Homo sapiens: one gene and its partner. The protein of the gene in region 2 purifies or fractionates together with the protein of the main gene of each other region. This does not show direct contact. Each region holds a gene or a part of one and is shown on either strand. Other genes may lie near its edges. The genes, in order: GID4 and GNLY.

Evidence for each region.
Region 1: the proteins of GNLY (region 2) and GID4 purify together in Homo sapiens (co-immunoprecipitation; 2 studies listed by BioGRID and IntAct, with this or other methods). This does not show direct contact.

The regions. Positions count from the first base shown.
Region 1 is NC_000017.11:18,063,339-18,068,991, forward strand, and holds the end of GID4 (glucose-induced degradation protein 4 homolog), read left to right. Parts: intron 1-1,841; coding exon 1,842-1,905; 3' UTR 1,906-5,067; downstream 5,068-5,653.
Region 2 is NC_000002.12:85,690,229-85,697,382, reverse strand, and holds the start of GNLY (granulysin isoform 2 precursor), read right to left. Parts: upstream 3,026-7,154; 5' UTR 2,965-3,025; coding exon 2,913-2,964; intron 2,631-2,912; exon of another isoform or gene 2,468-2,630; coding exon of another isoform or gene 2,387-2,467; intron 2,064-2,386; coding exon 1,960-2,063; intron 1,426-1,959; coding exon 1,327-1,425; intron 396-1,326; coding exon of another isoform or gene 303-395; exon of another isoform or gene 1-302.

The DNA of each region.
Region 1 (5,653 bases), on a different chromosome or scaffold from region 2:
GGCGGAGGTTGCGGTGGGCCGAGATTGCACCACTGCACTCCAGCCTGGGCGACAGAGTGAGACTGCATCTCAAAAAAAAAGTGTACAAGTCAGTGATCTTTCCTATATTAATAGAGTTGTCTAACTATCAAGTTTAGAACATTTTCATCACCATAAGAGGAAACCCCATACCCTTAGCCATTATCCCAAACTCCTCATCCCCTCTGAGCCCTGGGCAACCACTAGTCTTTCTCTTATGTATGTATAGATTTGCCTATTCTGGGTATTTTATATAAATGGAATCTACAAAATACGGCCCTTGCTTCTGGCTTTTTTCACTTAGCATAATGCTTTGAAGGTTCATTCATGTTGTACCATGTATCAGAACTTCTTTTTTATTGCCAATTAATTTTCCATTACAGGTATATACAACTTTTTTTTTGAAACAAAGTCTCGCTCTTGTCCCCCAGGCTGGAGTTCAGTGGCACGATCTCGGCTCACTGCAACCTCCGCCTCCCAGGTTCAAGCAATTCTCCTGCCTCAGCCTCCCGAGTAGCTAGGATTACAGGCGCCTGCCACCACGTCTGGCTAAGTTTTGTATTTTTAGTAGAGACGGGGTTTTGCCATGTTGGCCAGGCCTGTCTCGAACTCCTGACCTCAGGTGTTCCACCCGCCTCGGCCTCCCAAAGTGCTGGGATTATAGGTGTGAGCCACCGTGCCCGGCCGGTATATACCACATTTTATTTATCCATTCATTATTTAGTGGACACTTAGATTGCTTCCATTGTTTAGCTCTTGTGAATAATGCTGCTGTGAACATGGGTATATCTGAGTTCCTGCTTTCAATTCCTTGGACATATACCTAGGAGTGAAATTGCTAGGTCATACGGTATTGCTATATTTAACTTTATGAGGAACTGCCAAACTGTTTCCCACAGCAGCTGCACCATTTTGCATTCCTACCGGCATGTATGAGGGTTCCAGTTTCTCCACATCCTCCCTGGCACTTGTTATCATGTCTCTATAATTATAGCTACCCTAGTGGATGTGAAGCAGTATTTCATTGTAGTTCTAATTTGCATATTTTTGATGGCTAATGCATATTTCTTTCCTGATAATTTGTTTTTGGTAAGAAATAAGCCGCTTTTTCCTACGTTCTTCCACACTCCTGTATGAAACAAGTAGGGGAGAGCCAACTTGCTAGACATTGACTCTAAATGTGCCCGAGGTTGTCATCCCAGCATGTAGATTGTCTGCCCCTATTTCTCCTCCCTCTGCATGACTCCCTGGATCACCTGCCAACAGGGGAGGCAAACACCTCAGATATCACTAATGTTTTCCAAGCCTAATACCGTACCTAGGAAAGTGAGAAAATTTAAATGAAAGGTAAAATACAGTTTAAGGCAGTAGTGAAATGAATTTTTCTACGCTCTCTTTAGATACCATGAGAATCAGTTTATGCCTATGCTAGCCATAAAGTTCTTAGGATATGAGAGCCTGGCATTACATGCTACAGCAGGAGAGGTCAGAGCAGCCGGTGAGGTTAGGGCTTGGGCGTGGGTCTCCATCTTCTCCCACAGCTTATTGAGGTCTCCTTTTTATAAAACATACCATAGTTAACTTCATGATTAGAGCAGAATGAAAAAAAACATTCATCTAGTGCATGGTTCAGGAGGATTAACCAAAAAAAGAAAGAATGAATGAAATCAAACTAGGTTCAACTTGAGAAATAGAAAATGAATGTGCATTTCAGTCCAAGTATGTGACTTGTTGGGTGCTCTGCTTTTTGAGGGGTTACTAATGTCCTTTGCTCAGGGTGCATTAGATGACTACCTCCCGTTTCTGTCTCCTCCCCCTTGCAGGTATCAGTCCCTCAATCTAACCCATGTTCCTGAACACAGTGCACCCATCTATGAATTCCGGTGACAACGGTTCAGAACAGCAACCAAATAAAACTGAACTTGGCAAAAAAGAACTTTGCCGAGAAAATTGTGTACCTGCCAGAACCAGGAGAAGTGTGTTCCTGTTTCTTCACGAGCAGACTCGCATCACAAAGCATGAATGTTAACCCACAGAATCCAAGGAGCATGGCTGGCCCGTGGGGCAGGTGGAGGGAGCAGTCTTCGTTCTTCCTCCCCTCAGTGGCAGTTTGGTCTTCACCTGTTTTTAAGCTACCTTAAACGCACTTTTCCTTCCTGCACAGCTAACTTCTACATCACTGAAATGCCCATTCCTTCCTCCGTCCCACCTCCAGCCGAATAGAAGGTCTGCTCCCGGATCACCCTCAGCCTTGGTGCTCAGTGGTCCCGAGGCCCTAGACCCCCACCCCCCGCCAGTTGCTTTGTCTGGTAGCTCAAGAGAAGGCAGAGCCCCAGCACCTCTGTGCCCCCCAGAGCTCTGTGCAGGGAGTTGGCCAGCTGCCGCATCATCGGCCACCAAGGGCACAAGAGGCGGAGGCTCCAGTCCCTGCTGGGCTGCCTCAGTCTTCAGTGCTGATTGTGTCACGGGTCAGCGTGCGCTGCTGAGCCCTGTACTGTTAACAGTGCAAAGCTAGTGAGTAGCTGTCAGGTTCCCTGGGCCTGCCATCAGGGATCACTAAATTTAAGGCTTCCAGATCCCTGGCAGGAACAGATTCCAGTCCTGCTTACTCAGTACATTTGCTCCAAACTTTTCAACTTGAGGGCAATACTAAACTTAAAAATAAGAGTTTTTTTATTACAAAATTATTTTTATGGTCCCTTTAACGAGGACCCTATGGCAAATGCACAATTATTCAGAATTACATTTTATCGTTTTCACATTGAAAACAGCAAATGTTGACTTAGTAATTTTTATATCGATATCTATATGTATATGTATATTTAATCAACCAGCAGTTTTGAAACTAGTCATCCTGGTACAAAAGTTTTGCAGCATTGCCTAAATTATAGTGCTCAACACAAGAACTGTTTTTGGGGCCAGTTTAGCATTTGTGCCGCCTCCTTTTGCTACTCAAAACAGCAATGCTTGGCGGCAGCCTTCCATGAGGCAGAAGGGGTCGTCGTTCTCTGAAAACAGTGACTCTGAAATGTTGGGACAGGGGAAGGGGTGGGAAACATGAACATGCTCAAATAACTCGAGGCTCACGTGCCAAAGTGTGTGTGTGTGTGTGTGTGTGTGTGTGTGTGTATGATGTTTTGTTTTTTTAAATGTTTTAAAAGCTTAATAGGTTGGCATCAGTTGTAGCCCACAAACATGGCTAGGGCTTTGGGGATTTGGCATTTTTCTGGTGGTTTACAAGACTTACTCCGAATACAAGAGGAAAAGCTTTAAAAACAAGATTGCATCATAACCCCCAGGAGCAAAGCAACCTGGAGGCTGCATATCCATGGGCGGGCAGCATAAGAGAATGTGAAGCCCTTCAGTGAGACGAGACGAGCAATGGGAAACCTTTTCTGTTCTTAAGAAGTGACTTTAATTTTATTGACATATGTACTGTATGTTACTGAGATTGAATGTTAGGGGAAGCCTTAAGGTAGAGGTATTTGGGAAAGTAGCCAGTGGGCACTTGTGATATCTAAAATCTGTTATCCCAGGACTGTGTACAGAGGGGCAACCTACCCATTCAGGAAGGTCAGGGCTTTGGAACCCTAAAAAGTTGGCCCGATGACTTAAAGGGAAAAATAATTCATTCCCAGAGATGAGTCAGAACAGTCTCCTCAATCCTGAAATTCAACAAGGCATCAGAAGGGCTGGCTGTGGTCAAGCCCAGCTGCTGTCATGTGAGGAGATGCTCACTGTGGTCTTGTTGAGCTGATGGCCTTGGTTGAGCTGATGGACAAGTGAAGGAGGCCATGGGGCTGTGCTGTCCTTCCTGCCGTACGTGCCATTCCACTCTCTTCAGCTCTCCCCTCAACAGCATGCGAGCCCATACCTTCTGCATTTTTCCAGGCCTGTGAGGGATATAGGCCTCCCCTTGGAGCACTGAGTCCGGAGGTCATCCCTGAGCTCATCCACGGCTCATGCTGTGGCTCCGAGTAGTGGTTTGAGTGGGCAGGAAGGGCCATTTGCAAACACTGCTGTGTTCTAGACAAACAACCCAAGTCCTATGGCAGGATTTCTTCCTTCCTTCCTTTTTTACCCAGGTGATGAAGTGCACCCATTGTACTGGGAAGAATGAAGAGGTGATACCTTTACTAGATCCTTCAGACACATCTATGAGAAGATTTGTTCATTTAAAAGTCTGCCCACTGAGGATAGGGAAAGGATTAAGGATTTTTCCACCTCCTCTTAGTAACTCCTGAATTACCAACATCAACTTCTTTCTCTCCGTTCCTGAAGGAACTTTGGGGAATCATCTTCATCCGTAGTTACGCTTTCCTGAACCTTCTCAGTGGTTTACATGCCTCTGAAACTATGTGCAATATTTTTGGTTGACACTTGTATCCATCCTTAAGAAATTAGTGCAGATTGCAGATGTTCTGTCTTCCATCCCAAACAAGCCTGCCATGAGGTAGGATCCTAGGGGTTTGGCTGTTCTTACTCCACTGCTCAGAAAGCTTCCATTCTGCTGTCCTCAGCCTCGACCCTCTTCTGTGCTGGACTTCCACCCACCCACCCTTTTCAAGTTTAGATAGTGTTTCAGCTGCTGTCCCAAAGTAACAAAACAATACCTACTGTTAAGTAGGAAGTCAATCTGTGTGCTGGTTTTGTTGGTTATGTGGAAATCACAAACTCCAGAGGAGCAAAGGGGTTTTTCAATGTCTTTTGCTTTCAGAAACAGAGAATATAATATTCTCACTAAGGCCTTGAATTGATTTTTTTCTCATAAAATAGTCTGATAAGCTAATTTTTAAAAAGAAATGCCATTAACTGTGTTGTATCGTGGTTTAAAATTACTAACAAGTTGTGGGAAAGAAAAATAATATTTGATTTTGAATCTTAAATGTTTTTAAAAATTAGACTTGAATGGGCACAAAGTATAAATATTTTGTTTCTTTATGGAGGACATGTGGAAGGAGTTTGAGGGTTTGGGATGGGAGAAGTATTTTGCAGAGCTATCAATGTCCAAATAATTTAAAAAAAAAAATAAAGGTATTTAAGCAGTGAGTTTGTCCTATTTGTAAACCAAAGCAGCTCCATTAGAGGAAAGCAGTCCTCTCTGGGCCTGTGGCTGTGGAGCTCTCCAGGGCCAGCCGGAGACCTCTGTGTGCCAGGGCAAACCGAGGGCCCCTCTGGGCAACTGTTGCAGTGGTCTGCTTGCTCCTTTTTCATTCTGAATGTTTTCAGCTGCTCAGCACTTCTATTCAAGCTCCATTTTGTTAATTTCTGTATTTCTTCAGAAATGTGGAAGCATTTTTTTTTTCCATATGTGAAGGGTTTATATTTCTATTTAACACAGAGAAAATGTGCAGGCAGAGGTATCTGTCCAAAGCCTGCTTTGTGTTCTGGTGTGGGGACAGGCAATGCTGTTGGGCTGCTCTCGACACTGTGACTGTGGTCCTCAGAGAAGATGCCTAAGTCTCAAAGCACAGGCACTTGGACCCCCAAATAGCAGGATCCCTAAATCAGCCATTACAGTTTATTCTGACAAACCATTCTGTTACGTTTCAGGTCCCACCTCCCTAGGAGGCTTGAAGGAACATGACTGGAAACATGGGAGATTTTGAGGAAACATATAAAGTGTTGAGGTCTA
Region 2 (7,154 bases):
CATGGGGCCAGAGACTGTACAGACGGGGCTCAGCCCCTACTCCCAGTCCCCAAGGCCTGGCCCAAGACTGGCCAGGTAGGGCTCCTGAGACAAGGACAGTTAGCCCTGCTGGGGTCTCAGCGCCTTGTGCACCTGTCCCCTGCCTTCTGTGTGGAGAATGGTGCCCATGGCTGCCAGGCACACATTAAATGCTCTGCCATGTAGCTACCTGGGTCCAGGACCTGGCTGGGGGCTCCAGATAGAGGGGGTGCATAGAGAAGACTGGTGGGGTGGGAGGTGTGGTCAGAGCTTGGAGTCTTGGCTCATTTGGTTTTAAAGTCTCTTCTATGCCATCCCAGGGGAGGAGGATGAATCTGGGTATCCAGGGCTAAGTGCGAGCCTGCAGTGCCAGGATGCTGAGTAGTTTGGGGCAGCAGAGGAGAGGGAAGGAGGGAGAGTGAAACAATAATTCTTGGTAGTAACACAGTCATTCGTTAAGCATTTACTCAGTGCTGGACGTGGAGCTAAGTACATCCCAGCCCTCAGCTCTTTTAAAAAGCTTCAGCAGCCAGGTGCAGTGGCTCATGCCTGTAATCCCACACTTTGGGAGGCCAAGGCAGGTGGATTGCTTCAGCTCAGAAGTTGGAGACCAGCCTGGGCAACACAGTGAGACCCTGTTTCTACAAAAGTACAAAAATTAGCTGGGCATGGTGGCGCACACCTGGAGCCCCAGGTACTCAGGAGGCTTAGACAGGAGAATTGCTTGGGCCAGGGAGGCAGAGGTTGCAGTGAGCCAAGATCACACCAGTGCACTCCAGCCTGGGTCTCAGAGTAAGATCCTATCTCAAGGAAAAAAAAAAAAAAAGGGTTTGACAACTTGCAAGATAGGGACTATTATCCATCACATTTCAAAGATAAGATAACAGAGGCTCAGAAAGTGGAAGTGACTTGCCCAAGGCCATGCAGCTTGGAAGTAGCAGATCTGGGATTTATCAGTCCTGACCCAGGCCTCTTGGGGAACTAGCTTCTCAAACTCTGCCTTGGACACAAATGTTAGGGCTTTAGGGGAAGATTCCTAACTTCTCTGGGACAAGCCCTCTTTGAGGATACATGATGAAAACCATGTATACTCTGCCGTCTGACTTACACAGTTCCAGAGAGTCACAATTTCACAAGTTCTCTGAAATTCATCCACAGACACACGGGGACTCACAGATTCCCTTCTAGGAAGCCCTCCCCCAGGATCACTGTGCAAGGTGCCCCCGGGCTCCCCGATCCCCGACCTGGTCACAGGCTGGCCCCTCCATTGAGCAGCAGACAGGAGGCTCTGTAGCCCCTTGGCCTCACCTGGGTGGGCTTATCCACCATCTTCTTCAGTTTTTGGACTATCGTCAGACAGGTCCTGTAGTCACGGCCCAGCTCCTGTGTTTTGGTCAACAGGTCACCCTGTCAGGAAAGAAAGCCCTTATGATGGTCTCTCAGACACTCTGGGAGCGCGTGAAAGTGCCCAGGAAAGGGGCCCTTTGTGTTTCTGAGGCCGGCAGGAATGTCCGTGATCTCTTCCCAGAGCGTGGATACACTGAAGGCCTGAACTGGCTGCCTGGCCCCTGCCCACCCTTTTGCTTGTCTTAGAGGCTCTGAGACACCCCAGAAACAGCCTCCCACACCCCCAGTACTTTCCCAGCCCTGCACTTGCCCCTCTCCTATTGAGGAACTCCCAGGGGAGTCTGCCTATTTGGGTTCTGCAGCCCCAGGCTCCTTGGAGGGTGAGACCCCAGAGGATCCTCCTGGAGGAGTCTGCCAGATACCTGTAGCCCTCCTGGCCAGACATGAATTCAACAAAACCAGCATCGTCAGAAACAGCCCAGCCTCCACTCCCACCTCCTGACCATTAGAGAGCTCCAGACCTCACCCCAGGAGCCACCAGGGAGGAGGGAAAGGAGAGGGACTGTGGCAGGTGAGCAGAGAGCCAACACGTACCTGGGGGCCCTCCTGGGCCAGGCACGGGCAGGATTTCTCCTCATCACGCAGGTGGGCTCTTGCCAGGTCGTAGTACTCAGGGCTCAGACGAGAGAAGACCAGACCTGAGGAAGACCAGACTTCAGCTTCCCCTCCGCAGGCGGAAGGAGAGGGAAAGCCCGTTCTCCTGGCTGGTGGGAGTCCAGGAGGTGACCAGGGCCTAGGACAGGAGCTGGGCCTTGCAGGGGGCCAGGATACCTGTCCACATGCTTTGCCCTGGAGCCGCTCTGACCCACTCTCAGCACAAACACGTGTTCTCACGTTCCTTCTAGAAAGCCAGGAGGGCGAGACTCTCTCTTCTCCTCTGTTCCCCCAGCAACACAGATTTGGGGGTCGGTTTGTCTAGAAACTTCCCTCAATCTCCTTTCAAGGGATTTTCTTTTTTTACCTTCCATCCAGATGGCCCAGCCAAATCCACTCTCCCTTCCAGAAGTGTTCTTGCCCTTGGGGCTCACACTGACCTCAAGGCCTGGGAGAGAGCAGGGTGCAGGGGGCAGGAAGTCTGCCTTGAACACAGAAGAGATCTTGTTCTCTCACCAGCCCCGCACAATCCTAGACAGTGTAGGCCCGAGGAAACGCAGATCCACCGATGAGGGCCAATGGCCTTCACCACGCAGATGCGGAGGCAGGGGCTTGGGAGGGAAAGGGGGGTCTCAGGCCACACAGTGTGGCCAGTAGAGTTAGGACCAGAATCCCTGGCCTGTCTCTCCTCCTTGGCCAGGCCAGTGACAGGCTGGGCAGCACACTGGACTAAGCCTGGCTCTGAGGGGAGGCCAGGCCTCCATGACGGGGGAGAAGGCCGGGGGGAGGCAGGGGCACCTGGGTGCCCACAGAGTCCAAGCTCCAGGTTCAGCCAGCCTGAGAGTGCGAGGCTGGGTGGGCCATCAGGATCGATCCCGAGGGGAAGGCCTTACCTGGGTTGCCCAGGAGCATGGCTGCAAGGAGCAGGAGGGCCCAGGTAGCCATGGTGGGGCAGCCGCTGAGATGCCTTTCACACCCTGTTTTATGGGCAGGGAGCCTGCAGCTTAATCTTTCTCAGGTCCTGCCCTTTTTGTATGTCATCTCCCCCGTGTCACTGGGTTTACCACAGATACAAATACCAGTGTGTGAAGAAGCAGCTCAGGGCAGTGGTAGCCCACAGGGTCCATGCCACACCCCACTCCCACACAACTAGAATGTGGGGTTGCTGGAGGCCAGCAGCTGCCAGGATGCCTGGGATGTGCCGATGGAGGGAGAAACCCCTTAGTACAAGTACGTTCCAGATATTGCATGGGACATACTTATACTAAAAGTATAAGTGAGTCATCTCACTTGACCCAAAAACTATTTTTAAACAGCTTTTTAATTTAACAATATACCACGAACATCTTTCCACATTTGTAAATGTAGATCTTCTTCATCATTTCCCCTGGTTGCCTAATGGTTCCCTTTACACATGAACCATAGCTGGGGTCCTGTAACTCTGGGACTCGTGTCCCCTGTGGTACTTCGGCTTGAAGAGCAGAGGCTGGGAAGCCTCTCCAAGGGCTCACCCAGTAGTCAAGTTGAGTGATGTGAGGGCCTTCTTCAGACAGGGTGCCTCAGCATCTCAAAAAGGCAGCTGTAGCTCCTCCAGGCTACAAGGCCTGTTCACGTGGAAAATGGAAAGAGTGAAGCTGAAAGAGGTGGTACCTGTATAGGAAAAACATCTTTCCCAGGGACCCTCAGCCTCCATCTCATTGATCTGAACTGTGTCACATGATGACCCTGGCTGCAAAGGGCAATAGGAAGGGAGTCTTTTGCTGGACCTTCACTGACACTTTGCTTTTTGTTGTTGTTGTTTGTTTTTGTTTTGTTTTTCTTTTTTGAGACAGAGTTTCACTCTTGTCACCCAAGCTGAAGTGCAGTGGTGTGATCTTGGCTGATTGCAACCTCCACCTCCGGGTTCAAGTGATTCTCCTGTCTCAGCCTCCTGAGTAGCTGGGATTACAGGTGCACGCCACCATGCCCTGCTAATTTGTGTGTTTTTAGTAGAGACAGGGTTTCACCATGTTGGCCAGGCTGGTCTTGAACTCCTGACCTCAGGTGATCCGCCTGCCTCGGCCTCCCAAAGTGTTAGGATTACAGGCATCAGCCACCGCACCTGGCCTTCATTGACACTTCGAACAAAATTGATATCCTGCTAGGGAGGATGAGGGAATGGGAATCGTATAGGCAATGGCAGTGTCAGCTACCGCAGGACTTTTTTTTTTTTTTTCTGATACAAGTTCTTGCTCTGTACCTCAGGCTAGAGTGCAGTGGTGCAATCACAGATCACTGCAGCCTCAACCGCCCAGGCTCCAACAATCCCCCCACCTCAGCCTCCCAAGTAGATGAGACCACAGGTGCTTGCCACTACCACCCCTGCTGATTTTAAAATTTTTGGTAGAGATGGGTCTCCATATGTTGTCCAGGCTGGTCTCGAACTCCTGGACTCAAGCGATCCTCCCAGCCTCCAAAGTGCTGGGATTATAGGCATGAGCAACCACGCACGGCTTTGCAGGACTTTTTGATAAGGAAACATATTTCAGGAAGAATTGGTAGGACTTTGTACCTATATGATTACAAGAAAGAAAGAAGAGAGAGGAGGCAAAGGTTTTACTAGTATTTGGGGCCCAGGAGGCTGAGGGACTGGCTGTGAAAATTAGGAAAAGGAGCTTTCTGGTGAGAAGTTGAGTTTGAGGTATTGCATTTGTGGCTGTCTTGTTTCCCCAGCTGTAAATCAACTGCTTGAGAGCAGGGCTGCCTCTGCCTGTCAGGGTCTCCCCACCATGCCTAGAACAGCTCTCAGACCAACCGGCAAACTCGTTTTACCTCAGATGAGGAAACCAGGACTCAGAAAGATCCAGTGAATTACCCACCAACACACAGCTAGGAAGGGAATGGTCTGTGGATTTGAACCCAGACCCTACGACTCCAAAGCCCAAGTTTTCCCCCAGCCCTACCCTAACTCAGTGTCCAGGTTTTCAGTGCAGGGCCACTTAACCCTCTTGAGGCCAGCTCAGGCACTACTCCCCCATCTGAGCAGACCCCCTCTCTCCTGACCACTTGTAGACCTTGGTCTCATGTGTGAAGACCACATTCTTGGGGGTAAAGGGTCTTGAAAGGTGACTCATGTCTCTTTATTGTGGGAAACTTGGTGAGACCAAACACTGCAGTAAGTCCTTGTCAGAGGTATTGAGGAGTACGTGGCAAAGCTCATGTAGTTAGTCACAAGCCTCCACCCAGGCCTCTGGGGTCCCGTGTGATAAGAACCTGGGGTAAGTTTTACCCAATTCCCACCCATGGTACCCCAGGAACTGGCCCATTGCAAGTCAGGCCCAGGCCCACAAAGAATTCCTCTGTGAAATATTGCCTTCTGCGGAGCTTGCAGTGAGCCGAGATCGCGCCACTGCACTCCAGCCTGGCGACAGAGCGAGACTCCGTCTCAAAAAAAAGAAAAGAAAAGAAATATTGCCTGCTGTATCTTCTTCAGGAAATCTTCACTTACGCTATCATAAAAATCACCTCTATGTTTTTTTCTAGAACTTTTATAATTTTAACTTTGACATTTAGGTCTATGACTCATCTCAAATTAATGTATAGTGTGAGCTGGGTTGAGGTTTTGTTTCTTCATATCAATTTCTTGAAAAGATTTTTCTTTTCCCATTGAATTGCTTTGGCACGTTGGTTGAATATCAATTGACTGTGGGTCTGTTTACGGACTCCTTATTATATCAACTGCTACTGCAATAATAATAATAAAGCAATCCAATTTTTTAAATGGGCAAAATATTTGAACAGGTAATTCGCAAAGGAAGATAAGAATGACCAAAACATTTGAAAACCTGCTCAACATCGTAAATCACAAAGAAATTCCTTTTTTTTTTTTTTGAGATGGATCCTCACTCTGTCGCCCAGGCTGGAGTGCAGTGGCGTGATCTCGGCTCACTGCCACCTCTGTCTCCCGGCTTCAAGCAATTCTCCTGCCTCAGCCTCCTGAGTAGCTGGGATTACAGGCACACACCACCAAACCTGGCTAATTTTTGTATTTTTGGTAGAGATGGGGTTTCACCATCTTGGTCCAGGCTGGTCTTGAACTGCTGATCTCAAGTGATTCACCCACCTCAGCCTCCCAAAGTGTTGGGATTACACGCATGAGCCACTGCGTCTGGCCAAGAAATTCTATATTAAAACTATACTGAGATGATGCATCAACATGACTAAAATTAAAAAGACAGAAAACCCAAATGCTGATGTGTCTGTGGAGCAACTGGTACTCTTAAGCATTGTTGGTGGGAATATAAAACACTAATAACTGAAAATTGGATTGACGGTTTTTCAGAAAGTTGAGCGTACACCTGCCCTGTGACTCAACAATTTCACTTCTATGTATTTACCCAAACTAAATGAAAACACCTCTACATACACAGATTTATACAAGAATGTTCACAGACATGTAACCCAGCAATTCCACTCCTAGGTAGACACCCAAAAGAAATAAAAGTAGATTGAAACAGATACTTGTACATCAATGTTCATAGAAGCATTATTCACAGTAGCCAAAAGATGGAAAGAGCCCAGGTGTCCATTGACAAATAAATGGATAAACAAGCCGGGCATAGTGGCTCACACCTGTAATCCCAGCACTTTGGGAGGCCAAGGTGGGAAGATGGCTTGAGGCCAGGAGTTTGAGGCCACCCTGAGCAACATAGTAGACCCCAGCTCTACAGAAAAAGTTAAGAATTAGCTGAGCATGGTGGCATGTGCCTGTACTCCCAGCTACTCAGGAGGCTGAGGTGAGAGGATTGCTTGAGCCCAGGAAGTCGAGGCTGCAGTGAGCCAAGGTCATGCCACTGCACTCCAGCCTGGATGACAGAGTGAGAGCCTGTCTCTAAGAAAAATTAAAATTAAAATTTTAAAAAGTGCATAAACAAAATGTGCTCTACATATACAATGGAATATGATTCAGCCTAAAAAGGGAACACAGTTCTGATACATACTACAACATGAATGAACCTTGAAATAATTATGCCAAGCGAAGTAAGCCAAACACAAAAGGATAAACATTGTATGATTCCACTTACATAAAATTTATAGAATAAACAAATTCATAGGGACAGAAAGTAGATTAGAGGTTACCCAGGGCTGGAAGGAGT